Linked DNA regions of Homo sapiens: region 2 is linked to region 1. The links come from fine-mapping of genetic effects on gene expression. A gene starts in region 1. The other region holds a variant in brackets. All regions are shown on one strand. Distances are between the middles of the regions.

Region 1 (4,390 bases):
TCAGAAAAGTTTTCGCCAATCGTCTTAGGTGATGACACAAATGCCTTGAGATTGTTACAGAGGCTCCCGTTCCTGCTTCCCCACAGTCCTGCAGTGGATTGATAATTTGTGTATATTACAAGTAATTTGCATAATTAAAACAATTAAGGGATCGACGTATCACGGTGATTAGAAATGCATCAAACTCTGAATGTACAAAAGAGAGAGCTTCAATATGAAACAGTAATCCTCTGAGAACGAAGACCCCGCAGTGCCGGTGCCCGCTGGGCCGTGCAGGTCTCGGCCGCCCCACGCCCGTGTCCGTCTCCACCGTGACCCCCTCGCCCCCGGCACGCCCAGGGTCAACCCCCGGGCTTATTGCATTTTTTCACAAACTCATCTCATTTTCCGCAGCCTTAGTCTGTTTTCCTTGTCCCGTTTCTTAAGAATAAGTATGAATTGGTTGAAAAAATGCTCCTGGTCCTTTCTTTTTTGAACAAGTCGGAACCTCTGATCCCGGCCGTATTTCTCTGCAAACTCCTTAAACGTGGTCCTGAAAAAGAAAGAGTTTCCTGAGACACCTTCCAGAGAGCAACTCTGGCCTCCCCAGAGATCCTGCAGCGGCACCGCCTGAGCAAGCATCCAGCCCTTCCACCAGGCCTGGCCGTGGGTGGCAGGGCACCCGGTGGGTGAGCGGCTCTGACCAGCCGTGCCTGCTCCTCACCCGGGTCCTGCAGGGCCCTGACCCACCCTCACTTGCAGGACCCCCTTGTCTCTCCTCTGAGTGGTCTCCGGAAATGAGCGGCCCCCACCAGCCTCCTCAGCCGTCTCATGCAGCTGTCACTCCCCCAGCCGCCCCGATCACAGCTTTGCTGGCCAGGTCTCCTCCGCCCCTCCCTTGCTGCCACCAGGCTCTGCCTGCCACGGTCTTTCTTACACTGTTCCCTCTGCCTGGTACACCCTTCCCTTGTTTCTTCCCCCAGTTAGAGCTGCTCGTCATGAGAAACCAGGCCAGGGGGTCTTCTTTGGGAAACTCGCCCTATCTAGAGGCTCAGAGAACTGTGACTCCATCACAGCCCTCTTCACAGTGGTGATCTTGTTAAACCTCACTTGCGGAACTGGACTCCCACATTCGAATGAGGGAGACATTATCTGCTTCGTTCTCCAATAAATGCCCTGAATGTCCAGCCCAGTGCCTGGCAAGTAGTGAGCCCCAAACACTGATGGAGCGAATCAGAGCTGCCAGGCCAGGTGGTGCCCCGTAAGAAAATGCGAGCGACCCAGCCTAGAGCAGCAAGGCTGTTCTCAAGGCTACGGCAGCTTAGAGGGCAAAACAGGATGCGCCTCTGCTGTGACCAACTGACCTTCGCAGGCACCGGGCCCCGCAACTTCCTGTTCTCTTAGCCTTGAACTTGAAGCCAGGGACAGGGACAGAGGTAGAGGGACCAAGGCCTGGAGCCGCTGGCCTATGCAGATGCACTCGCTTGTCCAGCGACAGTCGGGCAGGGCCTGGCCTGGGCAGTGTGCTCTGGGGTGCACGGAAAATGTGGACATTCTTTGTCCGGGGGATTCTTCTTATTCCCTCCCACTTCTCCTTACAGAGAATTTTACACTTCCTTGCAGACACGGAATTATTGTGTTAAATTATTATAACTTAATAGCTTCTGAAATATACAAACAACAAGATTATGCCGACATGGCTGTTAGAAGACAAGACAAATAATTAGCAGACTCATGCTCATTTCTGTCATTGAACAATTCGTCTCATTCCTTCCCCAAGGCGCTGCCGTTTTCCTGCTCTCCGTCTGTGGGGGTGCTTGTTTACACATCTCTCGCAAGAAAAGCGCTTCTCTCTGGCTTCCCTCTTCCTCCCTCCCTCCTTCCTGCCCTCTCCCCTGCCTTCCCTTCCTCCTTCCTTCTCTCCCTCCCTCCTTTTCTCCCGGTTCCTTTCTTCCTTCTCTCCCTCCTTCCCCCTTCCTTCCTTTACTGATGTAACCACCTTGGTGTACCTTGGCTAAGCCACACTCCACCCCGACCTGCGGGGGATGAGTCAAACGGTCAGACTTGCCTGGGCTTGTTCCACGCTCCCCTGGCTAGACAGGCATCTACACATTCTCAGTTAGGGGCTGGACAGGGGCAGCTGCTAGACAGGCCCTATTCTGGGCCTCTCTGAAAAGAAGAGTCCCTGAAAAGAAAGGGAGCCTCCCGCTTCCGTGGCCCCTTAGCCATGCCAAGGGGCAGCAACCGGCTTTCTGCTGATGCTGATGAGCTGTGGTGTGAACTCACGAAGGTCAGCTGATTCACAGGCCCTGGATCTCTGCTCTCCCTCTGCTAAGTGGGACTCGGGCCAGCCTGCCATGAAGGAGGCGGCTGCTGCAGCTCTCAGGAAGGAACACTGGGCGGCTAACCCCACCGGGCGGCCAACCCCACCGGGTGTCAACCCCACCGGGCGGCCAACCCCACCGGACGGCCAACCCCACCGGGCGTCAACCCCACCGGGCGGCCAACCCCACCTGGCTAGGACCCAGTCCCCGGTAGCTGCTCTCCCGAGAGGCGGGCAGGGCTGGGGCTAGGGGCTGTCCAGGAGTGTTCTGGACTGTCCCGTCGCCACCATTCCCACAGGCTGCTCAGGACCGAGGCTGAGACGGGCGACCAGGACGGGACTGTATGGCTGCAGGAGGCTACACAGCCTCAGGAGGCTGCTTCTAAGAGGCCCACGTCGCCTGCATGGGGACGCGCCTGGCTCTCCAGCATGTGGTCATTTGAATTGTACATGTTTCACTAGGATGCCTACAGAAAAGTATACAGAAGATCTGGAAAAAGTTTTTGAAATGTTGAAAACTTAGCTACTTTTAAAATGAAAAAAATAGCTTTATAATTATCAAAGCAATATATCCCAGTGTAAATTTTAAAATAATTTGCTACATTATAGTAAGCATCTTATCTCTATGTGCCCTATAACATTATGTTGTATAGTTTAAATATATACAATAAAATTTATTTTAAAAAATAGCAGGCAATTAACTCTCATTTTAAAAAGAGTCCGTTTAACTCCCTTCTAATTTCTACCACTCGTTTTCCTTCTGTGTGCGTGTATGTGTGTATGTCATCTTTTTTAAATGGCTCAATGCATTCCGAATATTTTTTCCGTTGTCTTCATGATGTATTCATGGGAAGGGGAGTATGTGGCTTATTGCTGCTAGTTTATCAATAGAGAATGCTGGCCAGATGTCTTTAACAGTAATGATGGTCTCAATAGCAGTAATGACAGCTACCACTTTCGGAGCTCCTCCTGCCTGCCAGGCACCGTCGGGGTCCCTCCCTGCAACTCCTCACGCCATCCTCCTCGTCACTTTCTGAGGTGTGTGTGGTCATCCTCCCATTTGGAGGAGGGCTCGGGAGCACAGGAAGGTCCAATACTTACCCCATGGCCAGGAGAAGATGGGCCAGGGCCAGGCTGTGAACCAAGGCAGAGAAGGGGCTCCAGCACCTTTCCAGAGCCCTTGCCTCCTCCGCCTCTGTCCCAAGGCCACCTGGTGGGTGGACACAGCTAAGCCATGGCTAGAACCCAGCATTCTCATGACTGCTTTAACAATGGAAAATCACAAGTTGCAGGCAACAGGACACACATTTCCTTGTCTACATTAGCACTTGTGATGAAGATAATTCATGCTATTTTTTCCCTATTCAGAAAGTACCTGTCCTTAGAATAGCTAGAGAAGTTTTATGAGGATTGTGTAACTAGCACTAACTTAGGTCACCTAATTCTTGATCAACCAAATCACAGGTCAAACAAAGGGGGCCTATGCCTTCATAGAAAGCATCAATTAATGTCCATTTAAAAACCGATGCAGGCCAGGCGCGGTGGCTCATGCCTGTAATCCCAGCACTTTGGGAGGCCAAGGCGGGTGGATCACAAGATCAGGAGATCCAGACCATCCTGGCTAACATGGTGAAACCCCGTCTCTACTTCTCTACTAAAAATACAAAAATTAGCCGGGTGTGGTGGTGGGCACCTGTAGTCCCAGCTACTTGGCATGTACCCAGGAGGCGGAGCTTGCAGTGAGCCGAGATTGCATCATTGCACTCCAGCCTGGGCAACAGAGCGACTCCATCTCAAAAAAAAAAAAAAAGAAAGAAAAAACTGATTCTGGCTGGGCATGGTGTCTCACGCCTGTAATCCAAGTACTTTGGGAGGTCGAGGTGGGTGGATCACCTGAGGTCAGGAGTTCAAGACCAGCCCGGTCAACATGGTGAAACCCCATCTCTACTAAAAATACAAAAATTAGCTGTGCATGGTAGTGGGTGCCTGTTATCCCAGCTACTTGAGAGGTTGAAGCAGGGAGAATTGCTTGAACCCCGGAGGCAAAGGTTACAGTGAACCAAGATCGTGCCATTGCACCACAGCCTG
Region 2 (4,390 bases), 53 kb after region 1:
AATACAGCAACGTTTTACAGACTCAACTCCATATGGACCTTGGAGATTTTTCTTTTCCCAACATCAGTTGATCCAGTCTCTGGATAATGCTGTTACTATTTTAAATGGAATAAACATTTTAAATGTGTGATGTCTCAATCTTAAAAGACTACCACCATGTCTCTTAGCATGGTTAAAAATGCTGATAAAACTTTTATAATACTGTCTTCTGAAGCTTCAGTCAAATACCTCTGGATTTGACACAAAGTGTGAATTACCATCATCTAGCATTAGCCCTCAATGACGTGAAATTAAAAATGCCACTAAGAACCCAATAGAATACCACACAAAACTAAAACAAAGAGTCAAGCTCCCCTTTCACTGGCCTGGCCTTGTAGCCAGGCATCTCTGCCTCTCAAGTTGGCAGGGAGCTCCTGCTCTCAAATGTCTGCAGTGGAGTCAAGACCGTTTGAATCCACATGCTCTGGGAGGAGGGCTTTCCCCACGCAGCAGCTAATAAAATATGTATTAGATCTAATCGGAAAAGATCCTTTGTGAAAATGCTGAAAGTTCCTCTCTGTTTCTTGGCGAAACAAGATTTACAGGCATTGTCAGAAACAACTGCCTCTGCCAAGCACCCCATTCCTCTGCAGCTGAAGAAAATCTCTTCCCCTGTCCGTGACCAGGGTTTTATGGAATTGAGGCATCCATCCAAGCACAACAGCAGATCAATGTGCTGCAAAGGTCTAAAGTGAATGTAAGGTGGAAGAAAACACACTCCCATCTGCGTACATCTGGTCTCTGAAGTGGCGTTCATAAGACATTTGGAACAAGAATAAAATGCTGGGTAACAGTGATGCTGGATGGAAGCTTTGAGGGGCGGAGGGAATGAATGGCCATCTCTGCGTTAATCACCTTACGTGATGCAAAAAGACAGCCAGAGCCGACCGCTTGGAAGGATCAAGGTTTCTGCAGGAAGTGCCATAAAAACTTGATTACTAAACTCTGCAATCGGGCACAGGATTCCTTAATAGTCAATTTTCAACATAACCAAGAAGAAACATGCTTTCACTTTACGTTCATTAGAAATAAGCAGCTTAAACACTTCAAAGGAGGTGTAAATAACCCAGGGCTTAGTTACTTGCTGGTGCCTCCAGCTTGCGTTTGTGGGGCGGGTCCTCAATGATCCTGTTGAGGTCTCCGCGGTCCTTCAGGTCCATGGGCTTCTCCCAGACAGACAGGTGCATCGTTGGGTTGAAGAAGAAAACTCGGTCATCGCCCGTCCAGACCACACACCTGTTTGAGTGGAAAAACTCATCTCAGTCGCTCTCGGAGACACTTAATTAGAAAGTCGTTAGCATGAACTCTCACTGAAAAAGCCCCTCAGGACCGAAATCCACACATTTGCAAAGCTTGTTTATGGATAGTATGAATACTAAAGACAAAGCCTGCCTTTTTAGGTGACCTTACGGATCTGACTCATTTGATTAACAGGTAGACATTCTTATCACCAGCCTTAGACCAGGGAGAACAACAACATTCAGAGAAGCCAAGCAGCTCATCAAGGTCACAGGCAGGCAGAGCTCTCTCCAGCCCACCAGCTGTCACTGCCTCAGTGAAATTCCATTCCAGATGCAGAGCACTCTGGGGCGCCTCCTGGCCCTGGTTCCGGCAATAGAGTAATTCGGAGAGCGGCTCCCTACACTTCCCCAGTTGAGCTCTGCATGGCCATCAAGCAATGCGCACGGCCACAGGTCATTACCCTCCGGCAGCAGCAGAATTAAAAGGGCTGCTGTCATTAGCAACCACAGCCCCGGTGTCCTGCTCATTTGTGGATGGGCAAATAAGGAAGATTTGTATTTTCATTTATGGAAACTGAAGACATCTAAAAGGAATTATGTGCCCTTTTTAAGCCCCTTATCTGTGAAAAGTTATCAGAAAAGATTAAAAAGAAAAAAAAATGAAGAGAAGAAAATTAATGAGAGGGAAGGAAAGGAAAAAAGTCCCTCCCTAAGGAATGCGGGTCCGGGAGCCTGCGGCATGGAGGTGCACGGGAGACTCTGCACTCTGACACTCTGACCCCGCGCTGTCCCCACGAGCAAGCGCGGCAGATAAAGGCCAGCAAGGCCGGCCGGGGCTCTGGGTTTAACCCCTAAGTCGTGTCAGGGTGCT[A/G]TTAGAGATTGAGGCCTGTGCTGGCACCGAGGCCCGTTCCAGGTGTGGACCTCCCAGGAGGTTCCCCTGGGGCAAGCCCCCTCCCCTCTCTGGGCCTCGGCTTCCTGCAGTGACTTCAGAAGGTCCCTCTGGCTCCGCAAGTCTCCTGGGACTTTTCAGATGTGCAGGAGTGAATGGGTGGGAACACCCACATACCCACCTCTAGCTATTGACTTCCCCGAGGGAGGCCCCCGACCTGTTGGGGGTACTGTCGGGCACGGCCTAGGCCCCCGGTAGCCCACTCACGCCTCACTCCCGCCAGCCTCGCACAGGTTCGGGAGGAGCTGGGGATTCGTGCCAAAAGAAGCCACTCTGTTCTGCATGCAGAAAATCACTCCACACTTCACTCACCCAGGCACGTTCCATGGGCCAGGCAGAGGGCTCAGGGCCTGGGGCCCTGCATGTTGGCAACCCTGGGCAGACCAGGACCCCTCCCAGAAATCACCCTGAGAAGGTGTGCCGGCTCCACTACTCAGCCCAGCCACGCTCATGAGTGTGGGAGCCAAAATGATGGCTCCAAAGACGTCCACGTCCTGATCCCTAGAACAGGTGTGCATCACCTTACATGGCAAAGGGTCTGTACAGTTGGGATTAGGACCCTGAGATGGGGGAATAGCCTGGTCATTCAGGTGGCCCCAAATGTAATCACAAGGGTCCTTCTAAGAGGGAGGTGGGAAGATCAGTGAGGAAGAGATAGGAAGATGGAGGCAGAGGTGTTTCACACAAACACACTCTCAGAGACACACACAAACACACATACACACAAACAGACACACAGAGACACACATGCACACAGACATAGAGACACACACATAAACACACAGATATACAGAGACACACATGCACACAGAGACACACACATGCAGAGATACACACATAAACACACACAGACACATACACAGACACATGCACACATATATACACACACAAAGGGACACAAATGCACACATATACACATGCACAGAGACACACACATGCAGAGAAACACACATACACACAAATACAGACACACAGACACACATGCACACGTAGACACACACAGAGACACACATGCACACACACACGGAGAGACAGAGATCGGGAGATGCCTGGCCTTGAGGCTGGAGAAAGGAATCACGAGCTCAGGGTTGCAGGGGCCTCTGGAAGATGGAAAAGGCAGGAAATGGACCTCCCCATAGGCTCCAGAAGGATCCAGCCCTGCCCACACCTTGACTTTCGCCCAGTGAGACCTGTGTCAGACTTCTGATCCTCCCAACTGTAAGAGAATCAATGTGTGTCGCTGGAGCCCTGAGTCTGTGGGAGACGAATCAATGGGCTTCCCCCTCGGGGCGACTCTGTCCTGAGCACCAGCATCTGGGAGCCCTGACCTGAACCCCAAGTGTTGTGCCTGGAGGCCTTGGCCACAGCTGGCCTGGTCATCCATGTGGGAGAATATGACCTGCCCTTCTGCCTGGCAAACTTTCCAGCTCCAGCCCTGCCCTTGACCTACCAGGTGACCCTGAGAAGGTCGCCTCCCCTCGCTGGTGGCCTCATGCCCTCAACCCTTCAGATGGGGGGTGGAATGGGAATTTGCTTTATCTGGACAGTCCACCCAACTAGGGAAATGGACCAAGATAGAGTGTATCACACTCCCATGCCAGGTCCTGCCCTCAGGGGAGCGGGCTCATGGGCCCGTGGGGTGCTGCCCAGGCCCATGCTGGAGGCTGGAAAATGAGGCTGGCCAACTACAGCAGACTCCACACCCAGGTAGCTGGATCCCTTCCTGCTCTCAGATCAGGCAGACCATTGTCCCCAGCAAGCCCAGGCCAGGGATACCTGACCTCTGGGGCCTGCAGGGAGGCTGTGGGTATGCATTTATGGTGCAGAACCCGGCTAGCATAGGAAGTTTTTATTGAGTCTAAAGCTGAAGGTAACCACACTGTGCTGTAAATTATGCACAATTCAGCTACTATATGAACTCTGCAGACAGCATGGGCCAATAGGGAACATAAGCCCAGGGTAGAGACTGACTCCTTTCCTCCAGACGCAGACCTGGTGATGACCTGCTTCCCGGGTGGAGCTGTGAGTGAGTGGGCCACAGGCAGAGCCTATTATTAGCTCCCCACGAGGCCTGGGCTCTTTGGCAACACGTAGGACGTGGACAGTTTTACTACTGCGACATTGGGCTCTGTCTCCAGGCACCCCTCTTGCAAGGAATGCA

What was found. PIP is the estimated chance that this variant, and not a neighbour inherited with it, causes the effect. A credible set is the group of variants that fine-mapping cannot tell apart.
Region 2: its variant is the best candidate, but not a certain one, in a credible set for the expression of TCERG1L-AS1 in thyroid (GTEx, PIP 0.90).

Annotation. Positions count from the first base shown.
Region 1 is chr10:131,092,787-131,097,176 of GRCh38, forward strand. TCERG1L-AS1 (TCERG1L antisense RNA 1) reads left to right here and starts at 2,432. Exons shown (of 2, transcript NR_120623.1): 1 at 2,432-2,513; 2 at 2,602-2,991. TCERG1L (transcription elongation regulator 1 like) reads right to left here. Exons shown (of 12, transcript NM_174937.4): 12 at 1-532. The coding sequence ends at 376.
Region 2 is chr10:131,145,386-131,149,775 of GRCh38, forward strand. TCERG1L (transcription elongation regulator 1 like) reads right to left here. Exons shown (of 12, transcript NM_174937.4): 7 at 1,121-1,275. Among named protein-coding and RNA genes, the nearest start is that of TCERG1L-AS1, 52 kb to the left of the region's middle. RefSeq lists an enhancer at 1,765-2,266. The variant A/G (reference allele first, on the strand shown) is at 2,152.